7 linked regions of the Homo sapiens genome follow. The protein of the gene in region 7 interacts with the protein of the main gene of each other region in a pairwise test. Each region holds a gene or a part of one and is shown on either strand. Other genes may lie near its edges.

Region 1 (3,500 bases), on a different chromosome or scaffold from region 7:
ATTTAAGGGCCCACCAGAAGCAGGCCTCGAGGAGTCAATTTGCCTCTGTGTGCCTCAGTGGAGACAAGTGGGAAAACATGGTCCCACCTGTGCGAGACCCCCTGTCCTGTGCTGCTCACTCAACAACATCTTTGTGTTGCTTTCACCAGGCTGAGACCCTACCCTATGGGGTATATGGGCTTTTACCTGTGCACCAGTGTGACAGGAAAGATTCATGTCACTACTGTCCGTGGCTACAATTCAAAGGTATCCAATGTCGCTGTAAATTTTATGGCACTATTTTTATTGGAGGATTTGGTCAGAATGCAGTTGTTGTACAACTCATAAATACTAACTGCTGATTTTGACACATGTGTGCTCCAAATGATCTGGTGGTTATTTAACGTACCTCTTAAAATTCGTTGAAACGATTTCAGGTCAACTCTGAAGAGTATTTGAAAGCAGGACTTCAGAACAGTGTTTGATTTTTATTTTATAAATTTAAGCATTCAAATTAGGCAAATCTTTGGCTGCAGGCAGCAAAAACAGCTGGACTTATTTAAAACAACTTGTTTTTGAGTTTTCTTATATATATATTGATTATTTGTTTTACACACATGCAGTAGCACTTTGGTAAGAGTTAAAGAGTAAAGCAGCTTATGTTGTCAGGTCGTTCTTATCTAGAGAAGAGCTATAGCAGATCTCGGACAAACTCAGAATATATTCACTTTCATTTTTGACAGGATTCCCTCCACAACTCAGTTTCATATATTATTCCGTATTACATTTTTGCAGCTAAATTACCATAAAATGTCAGCAAATGTAAAAATTTAATTTCTGAAAAGCACCATTAGCCCATTTCCCCCAAATTAAACGTAAATGTTTTTTTTCAGCACATGTTACCATGTCTGACCTGCAAAAATGCTGGAGAAAAATGAAGGAAAAAATTATGTTTTTCAGTTTAATTCTGTTAACTGAAGATATTCCAACTCAAAACCAGCCTCATGCTCTGATTAGATAATCTTTTACATTGAACCTTTACTCTCAAAGCCATGTGTGGAGGGGGCTTGTCACTATTGTAGGCTCACTGGATTGGTCATTTAGAGTTTCACAGACTCTTACCAGCATATATAGTATTTAATTGTTTCAAAAAAAATCAAACTGTAGTTGTTTTGGCGATAGGTCTCACGCAACACATTTTTGTATGTGTGTGTGTGTGCGTGTGTGTGTGTGTGTGTGAAAAATTGCATTCATTGACTTCAGGTAGATTAAGGTATCTTTTTATTCATTGCCCTCAGGAAAGTTAAGGTATCAATGAGACCCTTAAGCCAATCATGTAATAACTGCATGTGTCTGGTCCAGGAGAAGTATTGAATAAGCCATTTCTACTGCTTACTCATGTCCCTATTTATGATTTCAACATGGATACATATTTCAGTTCTTTCTTTTTCTCACTATCTGAAAATACATTTCCCTCCCTCTCTTCCCCCCAATATCTCCCTTTTTTTCTCTCTTCCTCTATCTTCCAAACCCCACTTTCTCCCTCCTCCTTTTCCTGTGTTCTCTTAAGCAGATAGCACATACCCCCACCCAGTACCAAATTTCAGAACACAAGAAGGTCCAGTTCTTCCCCCTTCACATAAAGGAACATGGTTTGTCAGCCTTTCTCCTGTTTATGGGTTTCTTCCAGCAGAACAGAGACATTGCCAACCATATTGGATCTGCTTGCTGTCCAAACCAGCAAACTTTCCTGGGCAAATCACAATCAGTGAGTAAATAGACAGCCTTTCTGCTGCCTTGGGTTTCTGTGCAGATAAACAGAAATGCTCTGATTAGAAAGGAAATGAATGGTTCCACTCAAATGTCCTGCAATTTAGGATTGCAGATTTCTGCCTTGAAATACCTGTTTCTTTGGGACATTCCGTCCTGATGATTTTTATTTTTGTTGGTTTTTATTTTTGGGGGGAATGACATGTTTGGGTCTTTTATACATGAAAATTTGTTTGACAATAATCTCACAAAACATATTTTACATCTGAACAAAATGCCTTTTTGTTTACCGTAGCGTATACATTTGTTTTGGGATTTTTGTGTGTTTGTTGGGAATTTTGTTTTTAGCCAGGTCAGTATTGATGAGGCTGATCATTTGGCTCTTTTTTTCCTTCCAGAAGAGTTGCATCAACAAAGTTAATTGTATTTATGTATGTAAATAGATTTTAAGCTTCATTATAAAATATTGTTAATGCCTATAACTTTTTTTCAATTTTTTTGTGTGTGTTTCTAAGGACTTTTTCTTAGGTTTGCTAAATACTGTAGGGAAAAAAATGCTTCTTTCTACTTTGTTTATTTTAGACTTTAAAATGAGCTACTTCTTATTCACTTTTGTAAACAGCTAATAGCATGGTTCCAATTTTTTTTAAGTTCACTTTTTTTGTTCTAGGGGAAATGAATGTGCAAAAAAAGAAAAAGAACTGTTGGTTATTTGTGTTATTCTGGATGTATAAAAATCAATGGAAAAAAATAAACTTTCAAATTGAAATGACGGTATAACACATCTACTGAAAAAGCAACGGGAAATGTGGTCCTATTTAAGCCAGCCCCCACCTAGGGTCTATTTGTGTGGCAGTTATTGGGTTTGGTCACAAAACATCCTGAAAATTCGTGCGTGGGCTTCTTTCTCCCTGGTACAAACGTATGGAATGCTTCTTAAAGGGGAACTGTCAAGCTGGTGTCTTCAGCCAGATGACATGAGAGAATATCCCAGAACCCTCTCTCCAAGGTGTTTCTAGATAGCACAGGAGAGCAGGCACTGCACTGTCCACAGTCCACGGTACACAGTCGGGTGGGCCGCCTCCCCTCTCCTGGGAGCATTCGTCGTGCCCAGCCTGAGCAGGGCAGCTGGACTGCTGCTGTTCAGGAGCCACCAGAGCCTTCCTCTCTTTGTACCACAGTTTCTTCTGTAAATCCAGTGTTACAATCAGTGTGAATGGCAAATAAACAGTTTGACAAGTACATACACCATATCCAATTGGTTTTGTCTTTCTCTGAGATGGAGGGTTGGGAAACTGAGTAAGGCCCACTGCACACACTAGGAAGATACCTCCAGTGAACAGCTTCAGGCTGAAGCTATGTCCTCACCCCCGGTGCTCCTAGCACACTCTGGCTTCTGAAGGCATGAGGGCCTGGAAAAGGCGCAGGCTCCCAGGGTTGCTTCTTTGCATATGAAAGAGCACTGAAGCATGTTTTAATGCTTGTTTTAAAAAATAATAATAGGCCGGCGCGGTGGCTCACGCCTGTAATCCCAGCACGTTGGGAGGCCGAGGCGGGCGGATCATGAGGTCAGGAGATCGCGACCATCCTGGCTAACACGGTGAAACTCTGTCTCTACTAAAAATATAAAAAATTAGCCTGGCGTGGTGGCGGCTGTAGTCCCAACTACTCAGGAGGCTGAGGCAGAAGAATGGCGTGAACCCGGGAGGCGGAAGTTGCAGTGAGCCGAGATCGCGCCACTGCACTCTAGC
Region 2 (3,500 bases), on a different chromosome or scaffold from region 7:
GCTTCACGCTGGGGCAGGGCATGGACCTGGGGATGAGGAGGTGTCAGGGGGACACAGAGGACTTGGCTCCCCCACCCCGACCCCCGTGCTTCACGCTGGGGCAGGGCGTGGACCTGGGGATGAGGAGGTGTCAGGGGGACACAGGAAAACATGGTTCCTCGTGTGCCCAGGGGTGTCTGCCTCCCACCAGGAGGGGCCTCGGGCATGGGGCCCTGGAGTGACAGGCAACGCAGCTCTGCGCTCACGGACACGCAGGCCCGGCCAGTGCCAGGATGGGGTCAGGAGCCCCGGGGCTGTTCTTCACAGAATTTAACTTGAGTCTCAGTCAGAGCCACCCTCACGGACGTGGAGAACGCAGGGGAGAAGCAGCCGAACCTCCTGGGGACAGTGAGGCCGGGCGCCCAGACAGCACGGGGCTGTCTCCTCGCCAACTTTCTATAAAATGGAAGCGAGAGTTTTGATCCCACAATTTAAAACTCCGCACCAATTTCAAATTACCTATGTTCCTACTGCAGTGAGCTGAGACTGCACCACCGCACTCCAGCCTGGGCCACAGAGTGAGACTCTGTCTCATAAAAAAACAAAATCCTCTACTCTTCGTGGAATCTCTAGCTGCTTTATTGTAACTGATTTGTATTTATGGGACACATTAAGTGCCTGTTGAAAAAATAATTTTTATTTTCTTTCCATGACGGGCGATGACAAAATCTCAGACACTAATTTGTGGTTTGTTCTACAGCCGTTCAGGTCCTTTACTCGGAAGCTGCTCAGAGGGAGACTGAACGTGGCATAACAACAAGGAGTGGGGCGTCCTTCCCAAAGGAAGCACAGGTGCTCTCCGGGGCATGCGAGGCAGCACCAGGTCATTCAAAAGAGGCGAGGGTGGCTCTCTGCTCAAAGGAAGAGCTGGACACAGACAGGGCCTCAGGGAGGCCAAGGCCATGGCCCAGGCATCCAGACACCCTGTGGGGTCTGCACCCCCCCACCCCCCTCTCAGGTGCAAACTGCAGACAGGAGGCAAGCCAGGCCAGGCACAACCAGAAGGCCGGGCTGGAGCAAGGAGGAGAAAGGGGCTTCAGAGGCAAGCAGGCTGCGAGGTGCCAAACCCACAAGCCAGACCCAGGGGACAGCTGGGGCTCAGGCGGTGGAGGAAGGTCCTGTGTGCACCCTGGGCAGGGCGACCCTTGGGTTGTTGGCCCTGGGACTCAGCCTAAGGACCCGGCGTCCCAGCTGCCAGCTGTGAAGACAAGATTGAGCCCAGGTGACGACAGTGCCTGAGCCCCTGGCAGCTTGGGTGAGGAGACAGCATGCAGCCCACAGGCTGGAGAGCGTGGCTGCAACCAGAGGCACGGGTGGGGCACACGGGGGTCCCAGCTGGGCTTGGGGTCCCTCCTGCAGTGCTCCGTCCCCTTGCCTGGCAGAGGGGCCCCGGTAGGGGACTGCATGGGAGACACTGAGCGTAGGTGGGGAGGCCCATCCCCAGGACAGACGCGTGGGCCTCCATGGCACCTCCCACAGCCACTGTGCTTGGAGATGCCCTCCCCTCCCGGGGATGATGGTGCCACAAGGGCAGCCCTCCCATTAGAACCCCGGGGTGGGCAACGCGAGCCACGGGCCGGGAAGGACGCCCACCAGCCGGAGTCCTCTGAGCACGGTCCCGCAGGCTCACCTGTACTGGAACCGCCGGGGGTTGCGCCGCCTGTCCCGGCTATTGTGGTAGTGTGGGCACGCATAGCCCTGGCGGCACAGGCGTGGCGGCTTCGGGCACTGCTCCGTCTTGTAGCTGCCCAGCACGAAGTTGGCATCTGAAAAATGGGCCACACGGTGCCTGAGCAGCGCGACTGGAAGCAATGCTGGGCAGAGGAGACCAAAGGTGGAAGGACCTGGCTGTCCCCCAAATGGAAGGGGCTGCAGGAGGACTTGGGGAGCGCAGACACACGCCACGGCACACGCTGATGTCAAAGGACTCGCGCTCCATGAGGGAAGCCGGGCCAGAAGGCCACGTGGTGTGATTCTGTTTATGTGAAAATGCCCAGAACTAGGGAACCCACAGAGACGGAGTGGAGCCGAGACCACCAGGGCTGGGAGGGAGTCCTGCTGTGGGTGTGCGGCTTCCTTGCTGGGGGATGAAAATGTTCTCCAACTAGAGAGAGGTGATGTGTGCACAGCTTTTGAGAATATGCTAAAATCCAGAGACATGCACACCCCGAAATGCCGCATGGTGAGCCTCATGCGCACCACAGCCTCTGGGTGACAAGCACACATCAGTGTGGGTTCACTGTTGGTAAAGAGCGTACCTCGCAGTGCAGGAGGTGCACGGCAGGGGAGGCTGAGGGGGCAGGGGGTGTTTGGGAAATCTATTTTTCTACTCAGTTTTGCTGTGAACCGGAAACCGCTCTAAAAAATAAAGCCTATTTTTAGAAGTCATTCACTGGGCCGGACGTGGTGGCTCACGCCTGTTATCCCAGCACTTTGGGAGGCCGAGGTGGGTGGATCACAAGGTCAGGAGTTCAAGACTTGCCTGGCCAACACAGTGAAACCCCGTCTCTACTAAAAATAAAAAATTAGCCGGGCATACTGGTGCCTGCCTGTAATCCCAGCTACTCAGGAGGCTGAGGCAGGAGAATTGCTTGAACCTGGCAGGCGGAGGTTGCAGTGAGCTGAGATTGTGCCACTGCACTCCAGCCTGGGTGACAGAGCGAGACTCCATCTCAAAAAAAAAAAAAAAAAAAAAAAAAAAAAAAAAAAAAATCGCTGCCATACGCAATGTCCAGAATACACAAATTCACAGAGATGGGATGCAGGCCAGTGAGTGCAGGGACCAGGGAGGGGATGGGGAGGAACTGCTCATAAGCAGGGGGGTTCCTTCTGCAGGGATGGAATGTTCTGGAACTAGAGAGAGGTGGCAGCTGCACAACACTGCAGACGTGCTAAATGCCACTGGACTGTACACTTAAAAATGGTGCATTTTATGTTGTGTGTATTTTACATTTTTTTTTTTGAAACGGAGTCTCACTCTGTCACCCACACTGGAGTGCAGTGGCGTGATCTTGGCTCACTGCAACCTTCACCCCCCGAGTTCAAGAGATTCTCCAGCCTCAGCCTCCCAAGTAGCTGGGATTACAGGCGCCCACCACCACAACCGGCTAATTTTTTGTATTTTTAGCAGAGACATGGTTTCACCATGTTGGCCAGGCTGGCCTCAAACTCCTGACCTCAAGTGATCTGCCCGCCTCGGCCTCCCAAAGTGCTGAGATTACAGGCGTGAGCCAGTGCTCCCAGCCTTACCACGTTTTTTTTCAAATCAAAATCTCCCCTGCATATAACCTCATCTGTGTGCCAGCCAGGAATGCAGGTCCCCCAGCCCCGAGGGACAGCCCCCTGGTCCATATGTTTCTGGCCAAGCTCAGGGATTTGAAAGCTGCTGTCTAGAGCACCACCCCAGAGAGGCGCAGGGCTGGGGGCTCTGCTGGGCATCCTGGTGGGTGCCTGGTGGGCTG
Region 3 (3,500 bases), on a different chromosome or scaffold from region 7:
AACAAATCATATTTGGACAGTCTGGAAAATAGCCCGTAAGGTTCAAAGTGAAGTGTTCTTCTCAAAGGACTGAAATATTCCAATACCATCACAAGCATGTGGGCAGGTTTTACTTATTTTCCCGTAGACTTGAGACTTCAGAGGCCATTTAAGCCTTCGGGTAAAAATAGGCTGGGCAGCAAGTGGGCAAATGGTCTGTCAGGGTACAGCAAAGGAAAGACATGAGTAAATGTACATCATGACAAAGAAGATAAGAAACAGGCTGTGAACTGGGAAAGATGATTAGTGTGTAAAGTGCTCCCTGGATTCAATGGTAACTAACAGCTTATCGACAGGAAGCCTAGATGTAAATACACCACCACTAGAGCACTGAAGGGCACATTTTCAGGTAGACCAGGCATTAGACAGTATCGGCCCTTAGTGATGAGCATCGTTAAATACAGCAAAGTTAGCATCCGGCTATGGGATGCTAACAAAGGAAAGCCACCTCTCCTCAGTCACAAGCCAATACCTTTCCAACTTTACCAAACCACTTCCTGAGTCGGATTCACAGGGTCCTTTACCAGATGTAAAAGCTTGATATTATCAACTAAATGCCTGTGTCCCCCAGACTTCCTATGTTGAAATCTAATCCTTAATGTGATGGCCTTTGGAGGTAGGGCCTTTGGGAGGCGATCGGGTCATGGGGGCAGAGCCTCCGCGAATGCAATTTATGCCCTTACAAAAGGGACCCCAGGAAGTTAGCGAGCTCTCTTTCCACCACATGAGAAGAACAAGCAGTTGGCAGTCTGCTGCCTGCAAGAAGGCCTTCCCCTGAACCTGACCATGCTGGCATCTTGGTCTTGGACTTCTAGCCTCCAGAATGGTGAGAAGTAAATTTCCATTGTTTACAAGCCACCTAGTCTACGGCGCCTTGTTAAAGCATCCCCAACTGACCAAAACCCCTGATCAGGGGAAACAAACTACCAAGGGAGTGCAGCTCACTTTCCTGGAGATTCTTAAACTTTTGAGGAAAACATAAAATCTTGTCAGGAGCCCAATGTACAAGATGGAAAAAACAAATATTGTACAGTTACAAGAGTTATTCGTCATAATTCAGTGCAATAGCACAGGCTAATTTCCTGTTAAACCCTCTAGGCTGTGGCACTGGGTTACAGCATCTGGGCCAGAACAGCCAGGCCAGTGAGCCAATGCTCTGAAGGCCTGCAGTGTCCACCTGGGGAGAGCACCTGGGGGCAAGCAGAAAGTCTGCGTTTCGAAACTCCAGTAGATTTTGCCTCAAATTCAAAATGCTAGCAAGAATTGTGGAGAAATGTCCCAGTATTAAAGCCAAGTTCATGTTTTCAGGTTAAACACATTCTAAGTCAAATCAAAAAGCAGGGAAAAAAAAAAAAACAACAACTTCACAGAGGTGGTAAAAACTATGCAGAGAGGAAATGATTAGTATAAAAGTCAGGAATATGGAAAACTTCCGAAAGGAGGAAAGTACATCCGGAGCTAGGCTGTTTCGGGGGTGTGAGTCCATTTCTCGATCTGGGTGATCAAGGGATGTTCTAATTATCTGTTTCACTGAACTTCTGTGCACTTTTCCGTATTACAATTCCTACTAAAGAAATGCAAGAGGAAGCGCCACATGCATACCTCTAGAATGACATCCATGCTCATTACAGAAATCAAAGCAATGTTAACAGCCTTCATACAATCATGGCAACTTTCCAAATATTTCAGAATGTTCAGTGTTTTGATTTACTCAAGACAGGGTAAACACAAGTGACTTTAGCTGTGAAACAGGCTTTTCATGAGGATGAGTGATATATGTAAAGACCAGTGCCAGACATGTAATAAAGAGTTGCTCAGTAAGGGGCAGCTACTGTCCCCTTCTTTCTGAAAGAGCCCGGTGCCACCAGTCTGTTCTCTGGAGAAAGGGAAAGGCACTCGGTACTGACTCCAGAATGACAAGGCACTGGGCATCTTCTGCTATCAGGCTTCTTCCCAGCATTCAGCCATATTGGAAGTACTAGCTTGTTAGTAAAACACTTTTAAAAACTTTAGAAATCTTAAAATCGCTGCATATTCACAGGAAGTTGTGAAGAAGAGTCCAGGGAGTTCCACACGCACCCTTCACCCAGCCAGCTCTAATGTCAGCACCTTGCGTAACTAGTGCAATATCAAAACCAGGAAAATGACACTGGTCCAATCCAGACCTTATTTAGACTTCAGTTACACTTGCACTTATTTGTGTGTGTAGCTCCGTGCGACTTTACCATACGAGCTGTTGCACGTGAGCACAGCACAATTCAGTGACACTTAACTGCACCATTGCAAGCTCCCCCTTGTGCTACCACTTGCAAGTCACACTCACCCCCTCCTCCCATCCGTAACCCCAGGCAATCACTAATGTGTTCTCCCATTTCTGTACCCTCCTCCACCTCCACTTTTGTGCGTCACTCAGATAAGCTATCAATAGCACCTTTATTAACTAAGGTTCAGTTTGTTACTGTGAAGTACGATACTTTATTAAGACTATGCCTTCCTGAAAGCTGTCACCATTACACTTTAGAGGTGGCAGTCCTGGTGGACTCAAAGAATTTATTTAGTTCACATTCACCTGTGAGAATAAAGATCCAACTCCTCTTGCCCAAGATCCAAACCCTGATATCTTGGTATAAAACTCACATATATGTTTGGACAACACTGAAACTTCAAAGAGCAGGGAAAATGTCTCACGATTTGGAATGCCTTTTGATGCACCCAGTAGAGATGCACACAGGAGGCCTTCACAGGCTGCAGAAACTGGAATTTCAACTGAGTACTTTGCTTCCTTTAACCTTAATTATAACAAAAGAGCAGACTGCTGCAACTCCTAAGTGATACTTGATATAAAGTCCCATCAACCTTGACTAAACAGAGACCTCAACCTTCTTGTGCATCACACTTGTGATGACTGCCTTTTCAAAAGCTTTAAATTCTGCTTACTTACTGAACCACACTCTGCCTCAGACCATTTCGCAACTGGTTTTTGTTCATCGTAGGATTCCATTCCTGCTTGTCCAGATGTGTTGACACAAAATTATCCACTTTCTGCCTCAGGTTTTGGTAAGCTGGCTAAAATGTTAAAAAGAGGAGGCAAGGTCAGAAGTTATATGCACCAAAGTTTTGAACTTAGTCTCTCAGAACACTGCTTTTCACAGAAACGTTATTAAGTCTAAATACACTTCCACTGTGCATGAAGATCACCATGCAATGTGGCAGTCAGGAATTAATGGTTAACACAAGTGCCCACCTGATGGTGGGTGGGCACAATGCCAGGCGCTTTACTTATATTATTCCATTTGCTTTTAAGTAACTCTACATGCAGCAGGCCTGACATCAACCCACAGCCTGGACCCACACCTGGGCAGCCTGCAGCCAAGCCACCAGCTGAAGCCTTCCTAGCTCAGCTGAACTTTGGTAGACCTGCCGCCCCATGAACATGTGAACAAGTGCTGGTTATAAGCTGC
Region 4 (3,500 bases), on a different chromosome or scaffold from region 7:
CTTTGTGAAGTTAGGTTACACAGGTTTCTTTCTCTTTTGTTTTTTTTTTTGGGGACGGAGTCCTGCTCTGTCGCTCAGGCTGGAGTGCAGTGGCGCAATCTCGGCTCACTGCAAGCTCCGCCTTCCAGGTTCTGGCCATTCTCCTGCCTCAGCCTCTGGAGTAGCTGGGACTACAGGAGCCCGCCACCATGACCAGCTAATTTTTTGTATTTTTAGTAGAGAGGGGGTTTCACCGCGTTAGCCAGGATGGTCTCGATCTCCTGACCTCATGATCCACCCACCCCGGCCTCCCAAAGTGCTGGGACGACAGGCGTGAGCCACTGCGCCCAGCCAAGTTACACAGGTTTATTAAGTATGGTACCAAAAGCATGATCCATAAAACGACTAACCCTCATCAAACTTTTTTTTTTTTGGTTGAGACGGAGTCTCACCCTGTCGCCCAGGCTGGAATGCTATGGCACGATCTCGGCTCACTGCAACCTCTGTCTCCTGGGTTCAAGTGATTCTCCTGCCTCAGCCTCCCTAGTAGCCGGGATTACCGGAGTGCGCCTCCAAGCCCAGCTAATTTTTGTATTTTTAGTAGAGACGGGGTTTCACCACGTTGGCCAGGCTGGTCTCGAACTCCTGACCTCATGATCCACCCGCCTCAGCCTCCCAAATTGCTGGGATTACAGACGTGAGCCACCGCGCCCAGCCTAAACTTTTAAAACCCCTGCTCTTTAAAAGACGTTGTTAAAAGAATGAAAAAGCCACAGACTGGGAGAAAACACGCATATATCTGATAAGAACTCTCAAAAACTCAACGATAAGAAAACAATAACTGACATACAGTAAAAGCAAATTCTTCACCAAAGACATACAGAAGGCAAATACGCACATGAAAAGATACTGCTACACATTCACTAGAATGGCTAGAATTAAAAAGACTGACCACACCAAGTGTTGTTAAGGATGTGGAGGAACGACAACTCACAAACACTGCTGGTAGGAATGTAAAATGGTACCACCACTTTGGAAGACAGTTTGGCAGTTTCTCACAAAGTTAAATATACACTTGCCATAATAACCAGCCACTCAAATCCTCTGTATTTATTTACTCAAGAGAAATCAAAGTGTATGTTCACACAATAACCTGCATATAAATATTAATAGCATTTTCATTTGTAATAGCCCAAAATTGCAAATAACCCAAATGTTCATCACATGGTAAATGGATAAGCAAACTGAAGTATTTATTTCCATACAACAAAATACTACCTAACAATAAAAAGGAATGAACTGCTAATATACACTACGAGATGGATGGTTCTTTCAAGGCAAAACACAAAAGGAAAACCACTCTAAAGGGAAAAAATGGGCCAATATGGCAAACAGCTAGGGACTGAAAGTCGAGACTCTAGGCATAACTGTGTCTCACAGTCATGGGAAACCACTGAGAAAAATTCATCTGGGAGCATCGCTCTGGTTTAAATGGGAAGAACACTAACCCGGGGAAAGAAAGCTTGGGAGCAGGAAGACCAAGTCAAGAACGTTTTTCTCAGGGTGTGAACTACGGTCTGAACAAGGGTGGTCATATAGGGTCATAGTGGAAGTGGAAATGGAAACGAAGAGATGGATGTAAGGACAGAATATAAAGGCAGAATTTTATGATTAACAAAACAGGAAGAATCTGGGGAAAGGACACTGCTGTTGTCTCCTCCTCTGTCAAAGTTAACTGTGTGAAGCTACTGTTGAGGGATAAAGTTGCCCCAGCAGTCCCAGGATTAAGGCCAAACCACAGCCTCAGATCAGAGTGTGCACCACCACTGCTGCGGCAGAAAGGCAAAGCCCCGTGTGGGTGAAAAAAGTCCAAAAGGAACCAACACCAGAGAGTGCAGGCTCCTAGCAGGAAATCCCACTAAATAACCAATCTCCTCAAGATTCAGACCCAAACCAATTCCACTTTTAATATTAACAGTGATTTCCAAAATCTAAAAATATTCATCTATACATTACATGGAAAATAATACTTTTTTAAAAAATATTATCAGAGTGCTAAAGTAGTCTAACCAAAAATTATCTCTAAAAACATTAACATGGAAATTCCACCTGTTGGCATGGCAAGAAATTCTTCAATTTCTAGTAGGTGATACTATTTCATGAACAGATGCTCTGGCAGAGTTAACAACCTAGTGATTACAGATTTGCCTTGTGGGAGGACATGAGAAACACAGTATATAAAGCTTCAGTGCAGTAAGAATTAAGCTTTTGTTGCACTTATCAACAGGCTAACTTAATGAACTTGAGAAATCGACTCAACCAAGTCCTAATTCTATACCCACCCCTCTCAAAATCCACCCCTTCACCTTTCTCTCCCAGCTGTACGTACAAAGCATTTTACCACCCAGCACATACCTGTTTGGAAGGTAGGATTCGCTCCAGGATACATGTTAGGAGAATAGGCAGGAGCTGCTGCTGCATAGCCCATGGGAAAACCAGCTGAAGAAAAATAAAGAACAATCTCATGTCATCAACTGAAGTAGCGACAATCACTAGAGCTCCTGCAAAGCCATCGCTCTTACCTTCTTCCCCAGAACTCCACAGACTTAAGCAGCCCCAAGAGCACTATGTGTGGCCAACAGCATGTCTCTAGTTGTCTTCTTCCCGCAGAACTTTGTTTTTTTTATCGTTGTCGTCTTTTGAGACAGAGTTTCACTTTCATCGCCCAGGCTGGAGTGCAATGGCATGATCTTGGCTCACTGCAACCTCTGCCTCCCAGGTTCAAGCGATTCTCCTGCCTCAGCCTTCCGAAGAGCTGGGATTACAGGTGTGTGTCACCACACCTGGCTAATTTTTCTATTTTTAGTAGAGACGGGGTTTCATCACGTTAGCCAGGCTGGTCTTGAACTCCTGATTTCAGTTGATCCACCCGCCTCGGCCTCCCAAAGTGCTGGGATTATAGGTGTGAGCCACCACGCCTGGCTTTCCCTCAGAATTTTGATAGGTAACAATTATATATTTTATTTTTATTTATTTTTTGGAGGGGGACAGAGTTTCACTCTTGTTGCCCAGGCTAGAGTGCAGTGGCGCGACCTCGGCTCACTGCAACCTCCGTTTCAAGCGATTCTCCTGCCTCAGCCTTCCGAGTAGCTGGGATTACAGGCATCTACCACCACGCCCAGCTAATTTTTGTATTTTTAGTAGAGACAAGGTTTCACCATGGTGACCAGGCTGGTCTCGAACTCCTGACCTCATGATCCACCCACCTCAGCCTCCCGAAGTGCTGGGATTACAGGCATAAGCCACCGCGCCAAGCCTCAATTATAACATTTCTGGAAGTTTCATTCCAAACTCTAATCACATAATTACTTAGCAAGAGTAGTAAGAGTGCTAAGGGTATCACACGCTAGGTCCTGTTACCCTCATCTGACTTCACTGCACAAAGTCTGGAAGAATCAGAATTCAAGTCTAGCTTGGACTCAAGGGCCTATTTTTGCTGCTACCAGTGAACAGCTAAGCCT
Region 5 (3,393 bases), on a different chromosome or scaffold from region 7:
TTATGAGGTGCTGGGTGGGACTCAGGCCCTCCAGAACAGCAGAACCTGCACCGCTCACCCGTGGCTCAGAGAGGAGGCCTGTGGTTGGGTGGGGGGGGGGGGCGTCCATTGCCTGTCCTTTTAGCCTTGGCAGGGCACCTAAGTAAACTTGCCAAGAGCTTTGCTAGCCGTGGGCAGGCCGAGCTCATTGGAGGAGGTGCTAGGAACGCCCTGCTCTCTGGCTTTCAGGACTATGACCCCCACCTGCTCCCAGGTCTCCGGGACTCAGGAGACCAGAGGAACCCGGGAGCTGGCATTCGCCACCACGCATGCCTGGATGGGCTGCTCTTGGGGTTTCCAGTATGTGGCTGGTGCCTTACAAAGCACACATGGGTCATGAGCTGATGGAGGAAAGCAAAGGTGGATTCAGGCTGCTCCCTTGTCCACCCTCTCCCCAGTGCCAGGGGAAGCTCTACCACGTGGCTGCAGTGGGGACACAGGCTCTCGCCCAGCCTCTGCAAGGGGATGAAGTGGGACGAGGCCACCTGCCTGACGGAGCAAGACCAGAGTCCATCGCTCTCCACCCACCGAGGCCACCACCCTCTGAGCAGCGAGGAGAGGCCAGCACCACGGGCCACGTCTTACCTCAGAGATGCCGGAGTCCAGCACGGTGCGGAAGAGGGACTGGCGGTAGTAGGGGCTGATGGTGGACGACAGGAAGGGCAGCAGGTCATACTCAAAAAGGCCCTCGCCGAAAAACTGGTCGAACAGCCGGCTGGGGTAGAAGGGCCCCAGGGTGCGCTTGAACCAGGGGTGCTGGATGGTCACATCCATGTTCAGCTTTGGTACCACGGGGACCTGGAGGCTGGCAGGAGTCAGCGGGGCCTCTGGGCAGCGCAGTGTGGAGCCAAGGCCGAGCCCTCCCTATATATGCCACCAGCAGAATGGAGGCATTAAGGGATTTCTCTGGAAAGGCGTGAGCTCATGAAGAAGGCTGCTCAGTCAGCAGAAACGTGGCTGGGACAAGTGCCCGCCCCCAGCCCCAGGAGGGGCTGCACGGACTGTCCCCGAGGCCTGGACTCAGCTGAGGCCCGCCTGGGCACCCTGGGGCTCCCGGGAGGGCAGACAACCCAAGGAGGCGCCTGTGCCCCATACTCGCCTGGGGCGACAATGGAGCTTCTCATCTGCCAGTCACTGGGCAGGGGCTACGTGCCAGGGACCATGCTAGTTCTCTGCACACCTTGTCCTGCCGGGGTGGTCCTCATGGTCGCCAGAGGAGGGAGAGCCCACACCCCCGTTAGACACAGAGGTTAGACACATCGTCGTCAGAGTCTCACCGGGCCTGGGCAAGAGTGCACTGGTTTCCAAAGCGGAGTGCATCTGTGAACCTCCGTTACACTCACCACTTACAAAAGTACGCATGCTTGTTAAAACTCGTGGAGAAGAAGCTGCAAGGTGCCATAATTCCAGCACCTGGGGGAGCCCTATGGCGTTTCATGCTTGTCCTCCAGGGGTCACATGCCTCCAACAGGAAGACGGGCTGGGCTGTGGGCAGATGAGAGCACCACGTGGTGAGCTTCCCTCTGCGGCCCACCCTGGACGCCCAGCCCCATGGCCATCATCCCCTCGATGTAACGCCTCGAGCGTTACATCTCGTAATGATGTAATGCCTTGATGTAACATCCCCACGTAACGCCTCGAGCCTCCGTGGCATGACCTGCCGTGGCTGTTGAGTTGGGCTGCTCCTGTCAGGGTGGCGACATGTCCCCACGTCCCTGTCACCCATGCGGACCCACCACCCACATGATCCTGTTATCCACAAGTCCTGGTGATTATTTTGCTCCTCGACCCATGGCCCCTGTCCAGTTCTCACTAAGTGTCCAGGCACTCCCGGTTTTGTTTGTTTGTTTTTGAGATGGAGTCTTGCTGTGTCACCCAGAGTGGCGCCCAGATCATATAGTGGCGCGATCTCAGCTCACTGCAACCTCTGCCTCCCAGGTTCAAACAATTCTCCCACCTCAGCCTCCTGAGTAGCTGAGACTGCAGGTGCCTGCCACCACACCTGGCTAATTATTATTATTATTATTATTATTATTATTTTTGTATTTTTAGTAGAGACAGGGTTTCACCGTGTTGGCCAGGCTGGTCTCAAACTCTTGACCTCAGGTGACCCACCTGCCTTGGCCTCTCAAAGTGTAGGATTACAGGCGTGAGCCACTGCACCTGGCTCACTCCTAGTTTTAAGTCTTTTGATATTTTGGTATTTTGATATTTTGGTAAACTGGCCCTGGGGAGCATGGTCCTCCCCCACATCCCCCCTGCCAGCCTGGGAAGAGGCCATGCCCCCTCTCCCAGGCTAGCTTTTCTAGTGTACGGTCCAGGCTGTGGGAAGTTGCCTGGTTCTCTTTGGCCTCCTAGTTCCTACTCAGCCTCTAACAGATTCGTGCGTGTGGAGTGAACACACACCCAGGACACTCCCGGGCTTTGCAAATTCATCTCCAGCCCATGGGCTCAGAAGGCCATGAAATGTCAGATGCCCCAGTGTATGCGGATCAGACCTGACACATCCCAGATGGGATCAGGGATGAAAGGGGGGGCTCCGAGGCGTGCTCCACGGGGCACCTCCATCATGAGCAGCACCCATGAGCAGCACCCTTCCTCCTACATTTACAGCACTGTCCGGGGACACAGGATCCCAAAAAATCTTGAAATGATAGCTTTTGCCCTGCAAGGTTACAATTCCAGAGGAGCGATTCCCTGGGGTGCCAAATTAAGGTGCAGATAGGAAACGCTGGGAGAGTGATGGGTGCTTCCCCCGAAAGCCTACACCAGACCTCTCTGCCTGTGGGTCCTCAGAGCCACCCTGTGAAGCAGGTCCCAGCATCATTCCCGCTTCATAGACCAGGAAATGGGAGCTTAGAAGGTTAAGCCGCACACCCAGGTCACTTGGCTTGGAAGAAGGGAAGGGGGTTTAAAGCCACCTTTCCAGTCTGGGGGTCAACATCCAAGCAGTGGCAGGGTCTGGGTGAGGCAGCGGGCGGCCCCACTGTGCTGGCTGCCTATTCCCGGGGCACAGGGAGGGGGAAGAAGAGTCCTTTGGGATGGAAACCAGCATGGAGCTTGGCCCTGGGGAGGGTCGAGCCAGGCCAGGAGCACGGTCAGTGCTGGGCAGAGCCATGCTGGAGCTTGAAGCAAAAGGAGAAGGCCGTCGTCCTCATCCTGGCTTTATGTAAAATGTTGACAGTTTGTCCACCACAAATTTTTTGCATTCATTTTGATTTACTTATTTATTTTATTTATTTATTTTTGAGATGGAGTCTCGCTCTGTCGCCCAGGCTGGAGTGCAGTGGCACAATCTCAGCTCACTGCAACTTCTGCCTCCCGGGTTCAAACGATTCTCCTGCCTCAGCCTCC
Region 6 (3,500 bases), on a different chromosome or scaffold from region 7:
TGCCATTCCCTCTGCCTGGAACACTCCCCTCCAGAGTTACCTGCTTGGATCATTCCCTGACTTGCTCTTCAGGTGTCTACTCAAGGTCCTTTCCTGAAAGGCCAATGATGACCACCCAACAAAGTAGTAACTTCTGTCACTCTCTATCCCTTGTCCTTGCTTTAGTTTTCTTCATAACATCCGGCCTTTTCTGGCATTTTGTATATTTGTTTATTGTATTTTTTTTTACCACTTTCACCACTAGAATATAAGCTCTGGGAGAACAGGGATCTCACCTGTTTGTCCGCTGTTATATCCCCCGCACCAAGAACAGTGTCAGCATATAGCACACACTCAGGAAATATTTGTCATATTTTGGCCAGGCGTGGTGGCTCGGCTGGCCAAGATGGGCAGATCACCTGAGGCCAGGAGTTCAAGATTATCCCGGCCAACATGGTAAAACCCTGTCTCTACTAAAAATACAAAAATTAGCTGGGTGTGGTGGCAGGTGCCTGTAATCCCAGCTACTTGGGAGGCTGAGGCAGGAGAATCGCTTGAACCCAGGAGGCGGAGACTGCAGTGAGCCAAGATCACACCACTGCACTCCAGCCTGGAAGACAGAGCAACACTCTGTCTCAATTTAAAAAAACAAAAAAAGAAATACTTGTTGTATATTTTAATGGAGGTCCTGAAAGAAAGGGAGGAATATTATGGTATTAATATTAGGGTAATAGATGGGTATTGCTTATTTCATGTCATCCAAATTCCTTAGCATGGTCCAATAGTAACCTCTTCAAAACCTGGCCCCACCCTTTGAATTTGCAGCCTCACCTCTGGGTATTCCCCCTAGCAAGCACATAAATCTCCCCTCCCCTCCCCTCCCCTCCACTCTCACTGTTTTTATTTTTTATTTATTTTTTTGAGACAGAGTCTCACTCTGTCGTCCAGGCTGGAGTGGGGTGGCGTGATCTCAGCTCACTGCAACCTCTACCTCCCGAAATCAAGTGAATCTCCTGCCCCAGCCTCCCAAGTAACTGGGATTACAGGCGCATGCCACCATGCCCAGCTAATTTTTGTATTTTTAATAGAGATGGAGTTTCACCATGTTGGCCAGGCTGGTCTTGAACTCCTGACCTCAGGTGATATGCCCACCTCAGCCTCTCAAAGTGCTGAGATTACAATTGTGAGCCACCGTGCCCGGCCCACTCTCACTGTCTTTAAATAGCCCCACCTTATTCACCATAGGGGAATATCCTCTAGTCCAGCTCATTTCACCAAACCTTTTTTAACATCTACAGTGTTTCAGATCTCATGTGGATCCGGCAACCCAAGATTAATTATCTGTCCCCAAAACAGACCCTCAGTGTGAGTCAGGAGAGTCTCTCCATCCTGACAACATCCAGTGCTCATCTCCCATTTCTTCCTGAGTTTGTCCTACATGGAAATCGCTCACCATTAACCTCACTTTTAAAACTATACCTTTTCTTCTGGGCTTATACAATAAATCTCACAAGACTTTCATCAGCTATTCCAAACCTCCCTCATCCCCACTTTGTCCTCAACTGTAAAGCCCTGGAGACCATGACATGCAATTTGGAACTGTGACATACTCTCTCAATCGATTCACCAAATCAGCTGTGTCTCCTAAACCAGTGGGTAGGCTCTCTGAGTTCAGGCACTGGGCTTCTGGTATACCCCCTGGGCCCAGGTATACCCCCTTGACCACACTGGGTAGGGAGCAGACACTCATTCACAGGTACCGACTACTCAGACGGAACAAAGATAAGGCGAGGAACTTGGACCAGGCTGGCTGACAGTCTAAAAAGATCCTTCCCATTCATGCAGAAGCAACCCTCTCCCAATATAATTTTTTCACTCTGTGCTGAAATCATTAAGTATGATTCTGTAATATTGAAAAAAGTAAGCCCTAATAGTCTCCTATTTTTCTTTAGAGAGATGGGGTAGAAAAATCATTGAATTTAGGGAAAATGGACGCTGCTTCATTACCCAGCTTCAGCACTTATCTAAGACTATGCTAACACAGCAGCTACTAGCCTTGTGTGGCTATTTAAACTTACACTTAAATAAAAGTCAAATGGCATTCCGAGTCCCACTAGCCACACTTCACATGCTCAACAGCCACAGGAAGCTACCATAACAGGCAGTGCAAAGGCAGACTATGTCCATCACTACAAACATTCTATTGAACAGTACCGGTCAACGTCATCTTTGGTGTTCAGTTAACTTTTTTCTGGGCCTCCTGTTTCCTCCTGTGTAAAATGGGAACAACACATGCCTCACTGGGTTCCTGCAAGGTTTAAATACGATGCTACATGTGAACACCCTTTATCATAACTTTAGTAAAGTTTGACTTTACTGAAGTCTGTAACTGTATATAACTGTAACTGTATATAACTATACATATAGCCATACTTTGACAAAGCACTAAATGATATATATTTACTTATTTTTAAGAGTCTAACAACCAGCGATAGTAGCATCTGTAAAAGGGAGTTATTGTCAACTGTAGTAAAGAAATTCTATCTCAGGCTGTGAGGCTAGAAGGACGCCATCCAGGAGGAAGGGAGAGAGTATGCAGCGGCCAGGCCACCTAAGGAATGCTGCATTCCAGGCAGAATACAGATGAACTGAAGCCCGGCCAGAAGGATCTGCAAACGAGACAGGACAGCGGTGAGTGGAAGGGCCCAGGATTTCTCAGCCGGGGAAGAGAAGACTCAGTGGGAACCAAGAAGAGAATGGATTTTGAAACACACAAAGGGCGATCCTGGGGAGGGGCCTACATCCTGGGCAGCTGCGGAGACAATCAAGCAATGGCCTTCATGTAAGGAAAACACTGACCAGTGAGTGCCGCCCAGCAATGGAAATGCTGCCTTATGGAGAAGACAGCTCACAATTCCAGAAAGTGCTCAAACATAATGGTTCTCAAACTGGAACATGTATTGAATCACCTAGAGAGCTGGAGAAAACCCAGATGCTTTGGGCCCACCTGCAGAGATTCCTGTTCAGTGAGTGTGGAGGAGGCCCATGATTTTGCATCTCCAGGTGACACTGGTGATGTGGATGCTGCTAGCCCAGGACCTCACTTTGAGAGCCATGGCTCTAACGCAAGCTGGGGCACCCCATTCAGGCTGGCAGAGAAGGGGTGCTTGACATCAAGTGGGAGGTTGAACCCTGCAACCTTCCAAAACAATTTGACTCGGTAGGTCCTGCTGGCATTCAGGACTGCCTGGTGCCCAGCCTGAGACGCCTGAAAAGTCAGAGTGACCCAGGTCTCCCGCCAGGGGTGCCCCTGCGTGGACACCTCAGGCAAATCACTTTCCTACAGTTTTACTATTTATACCAATAGAAGGTAATGCCATCATCATGCAATGCCACAGGCACTAAGGAAAAAGGCCTATGCATGGACTTTTCTAAATGCCATGGTCTCCAACCATGGGTCCAAAACCAAATCACACCATCAGAGTGAACAGGCAACCTACAGAATGGGAGAAAATTTTTGC
Region 7 (2,940 bases):
GAAGACGCATGCCACCACCTGGCTGATTTGTTTTTTGTAGAGACAGGGTCTTGCTATGTTGCCCAGGCTGGTCTCAAACTCCTGGCCTCAAGGGATCCTCCTGCCTTGGCCTCCCAAAGTGCTGGGATAACAGGTGTGAGCCATTGCGCCAGGCCCTCTGGGCACTTTTGGACAATCTCAGCTTCTTGGTGAGGCCTGAGGACAGGTGGGCAGACATGCTACCTAACTGGCACCTTGGCTGTTGGCTGGGTCGGTCCGAACGGATGCAGCAGGCATGTTCCCATTACCGGAGTTCACAGCCCTGAGTCTTCCCAGGTTCCTGTTGCAATCTGAGACTGAAAGGTGACCAAGACAATTCTCTCTTGAGCCGGGCTATTGGAGACGTCACAAAACCCAAAGCAGGCTTGTTAAATGCACCTGTCATTTATTCTGACTGAAACCAGGGACAGACAATCTCCATGATGCCACTGCTTTCAAAGATTTAGAAACCACAAAAACCATTTTGAGTTATATTATTACTTTATTTTCTTTTTTTAAAATGTAGCATTAAAGTCATCCAACATACAGATATTCCTATGGCTCCTGGCACATTTTACTCTCTCTAAAGTCAGGTATTTTAATTATGAGATGAAGAAAATCATCTCATTAAAATGGCAACATTTCTGATAAATGTTTCATATTTATGTGATGGGTAATTGACTCCCCATCTACCCCTCCAGTCCAGAGCTACAAAAGACAGTGCACAACCACAGCTAACAGGTGGTGGGGGTGCCCAAGTAGACAGGGCTGCAGAACAACAAGCAACGGGGTTAAACTTCTCAAACAACAAGCAACTTCTTTATTTGTACAGAGTAAGAATATAGAAGAAAAGCATCATTTTCCTTTTTAGCCCTTTTATTAGTGTTTTGCCTCCACCCAAGTTACTGCATACCAAGCAGCTAATAAAAACCAACTGACTTAAAGTCTCTGAAATGCATGCAACTTAAAATTCCCTAAAGCACACATCGGTTCCGAGTCTGATTTTTACAGGGCAGAGGCTACGGTGCTGCTGGGTTACCAGGGGTGTCTGTCATGCTGCTGGGGTTTGAAGTCGCTGCTGCTGTGGCTTCTGGCTGCTGGGTTTCTGTGTGGGGATCTTCTGCATTTCCAGCATTTTTCTTGCCCTTGTCTGCTGCCACGGCACCCATCTCCATGATTGCCTGCAGTGGCTGATCTGCTTCAAGGTTGCTGGGCTGGAGTTCATAGACCTGGACTTGACCTGGGACATCAATGGCTTTCTGTTCAAGTTTTTCCAAGATGGTCTGAACCTTCCTGACACCGTCTCTCCTGGCCTGACGCACATCGGCTCGTCCCTCGGGGTCCACTGAATCCAGGGCCAGCAGCTCTTTGGTCAAATACTCTTCGATCATCAGGTACTTTTTGTCAGTCTTCTTGCCTTCAAAGTTGTCTACAGCCTGCTCCAGCCCCTGTACCTTCTCCAGGATGGCTTCCACTTTCAGCACTCCTGGATGTTTTGGGGGAGCCTCGGCTTCTCCTGGTTTTGGAGGTGTAGCTTCTGCAGGGGCAGTGCTGGGGGCTGCCCTCTCTTCTGTAGCCACACTCTTGGGGGAAGAGGGGACAGCAGAAGGGCCAGGGCTGGGAGGAGGACAAGGAACTGGAGCAGGGGGAACTTTCACCTCTACCTTCTCAGAGGGAGGTGGGGGCTTCTGGGAAACAGGTTTAGAATCCACCTCTTTGCGGATCACTTGAATTGGGATGTGTCCAGGAGGGAGTTCTGGTCCAACTGGGCCTGGCTTACTTTCTGGTTTGTTTTCAGGCTGGGAAACAGGTGCAGTTTCTCGATGGGTCATGGGCTGCTGAAAAAAGGACACAAAAATATATTTTTAATAACTGACTGAAAGTCACAGAAATTGTTTGTAGCTAGTACAGATTAGAAAGAAAACTGAGAAATGGCTTTTTAAAAAAAGTTTAATAGTATAAAAGATTTTCAAAGTCAATCAATGGCTGTTACAAAATAAAAACATGGTATTAATCATGTATGTAACCCAATCATTAGTCAGGCTTCCATTGATCACCCCAGGCTATTTGTCTATTACCTCTCACTGAATTTCTCTGTAGATGGTATTCTTAATGGCAATGAAAAGAAACCCAATAAAATTTTCAAAAATGAAAATAGCTAACCTGGGCAATATAGTAAGACCCCAACCCTACAAAAAATCTTTAAAAATTAGCCAGGTGTGGGAGCTTGCACTCGTAGTCCCAGCTACTCAGAAGGCTGAGGCGGAAGAATCGCTTGAGCCCAGGAATTCAAGGCTGTAGTGAGCCACGATTATGTCATTGCACTCCAGCCTGAGTGACAGAGCGAGATCCTGTCTCAAAGAAGGAAGGGAGGGAGGGAGGAAGGAAGGAAGGAAGGGGGGAAGGAAGGAAGGAAGGAAGGGGAGAAGGGGGCAAGGGGGAAGGGGGCAGGAAGGAAGGAGGGAAGGGGGAAGGGGGAAGGAAGCAGGGAAGGGGGGAAGGGGAAGGGGGGAAGGGAGGGGGAGGGAAGGAGGGAAGGAAGGAAGGAAAGAAGGAAAAAAATAGCAAAAACTCATGCTGACTGCTGAACTAGGCTGACTCAGAGCAGAGTCCTGAGTGACTCCAGCTCTCAGGTGTTGCAGCCTTGGAGTCGCTGCCTCTGGTCCTTCTTCCTTACACTGTGCAGACAGTCTGCTCACGGTGTGATCTTCTTGTCTCCTGTTTTAGAAAAGATACGATCTTCTTTTTTTAAAACCGTGACAGCCTAGTAGTTTCTGCCCAGACCAATGTATTTTTTTAGGATTAGCCAAGATGCTCTAAATGGTTAACTCCAGAACAATTTTGCTTCAGGATAGCTGTGCTGTAGCCTAACATTCAGCAATGACACAGCGCCTCTGTGCTAACCTCTGGCTGCACAGGTTT

What was found.
Region 1: the proteins of BAG3 (region 7) and RUNX1 interact in binary tests that used the Homo sapiens proteins (3 or more experiments, as listed by UniProt).
Region 2: the proteins of BAG3 (region 7) and UNKL interact in binary tests that used the Homo sapiens proteins (3 or more experiments, as listed by UniProt).
Region 3: the proteins of BAG3 (region 7) and BOD1 interact in binary tests that used the Homo sapiens proteins (3 or more experiments, as listed by UniProt).
Region 4: the proteins of BAG3 (region 7) and FAM168B interact in binary tests that used the Homo sapiens proteins (3 or more experiments, as listed by UniProt).
Region 5: the proteins of BAG3 (region 7) and alpha-crystallin A2 chain interact in binary tests that used the Homo sapiens proteins (3 or more experiments, as listed by UniProt).
Region 6: the proteins of BAG3 (region 7) and RETREG1 interact in binary tests that used the Homo sapiens proteins (3 or more experiments, as listed by UniProt).

Annotation. Positions count from the first base shown.
Region 1 is NC_000021.9:34,787,303-34,790,802, reverse strand, and holds the end of RUNX1 (runt-related transcription factor 1), read left to right. Parts: 3' UTR 1-3,002; downstream 3,003-3,500.
Region 2 is NC_000016.10:1,397,705-1,401,204, forward strand, and holds part of UNKL (putative E3 ubiquitin-protein ligase UNKL), read right to left. Parts: intron 1,806-3,500; coding exon 1,670-1,805; intron 1,238-1,669; coding exon of another isoform or gene 1,138-1,237; exon of another isoform or gene 597-1,137; intron 436-596; coding exon of another isoform or gene 376-435; intron 1-375. UniProt on the Homo sapiens protein: May participate in a protein complex showing an E3 ligase activity regulated by RAC1. Ubiquitination is directed towards itself and possibly other substrates, such as SMARCD2/BAF60b. Intrinsic E3 ligase activity has not been proven.
Region 3 is NC_000005.10:173,610,151-173,613,650, forward strand, and holds part of BOD1 (biorientation of chromosomes in cell division protein 1), read right to left. Parts: intron 3,106-3,500; coding exon 2,981-3,105; exon of another isoform or gene 2,977-2,980; intron 1-2,976. UniProt on the Homo sapiens protein: Required for proper chromosome biorientation through the detection or correction of syntelic attachments in mitotic spindles.
Region 4 is NC_000002.12:131,069,461-131,072,960, forward strand, and holds part of FAM168B (myelin-associated neurite-outgrowth inhibitor), read right to left. Parts: exon of another isoform or gene 2,562-3,500; intron 2,479-2,561; coding exon 2,395-2,478; intron 1-2,394. UniProt on the Homo sapiens protein: Inhibitor of neuronal axonal outgrowth. Acts as a negative regulator of CDC42 and STAT3 and a positive regulator of STMN2. Positive regulator of CDC27.
Region 5 is NC_000021.9:6,558,203-6,561,595, reverse strand, and holds part of alpha-crystallin A2 chain, read right to left. Parts: intron 1,525-3,393; 5' UTR 814-1,524; coding exon 625-813; intron 1-624. UniProt on the Homo sapiens protein: Contributes to the transparency and refractive index of the lens. In its oxidized form (absence of intramolecular disulfide bond), acts as a chaperone, preventing aggregation of various proteins under a wide range of stress conditions.
Region 6 is NC_000005.10:16,606,998-16,610,497, forward strand, and holds part of RETREG1 (reticulophagy regulator 1), read right to left. Parts: intron 1-3,500. UniProt on the Homo sapiens protein: Endoplasmic reticulum (ER)-anchored autophagy regulator which mediates ER delivery into lysosomes through sequestration into autophagosomes.
Region 7 is NC_000010.11:119,675,380-119,678,319, reverse strand, and holds the end of BAG3 (BAG family molecular chaperone regulator 3), read right to left. Parts: intron 1,857-2,940; coding exon 1,038-1,856; 3' UTR 501-1,037; downstream 1-500. UniProt on the Homo sapiens protein: Co-chaperone and adapter protein that connects different classes of molecular chaperones including heat shock proteins 70 (HSP70s), e.g. HSPA1A/HSP70 or HSPA8/HSC70, and small heat shock proteins (sHSPs), e.g. HSPB8.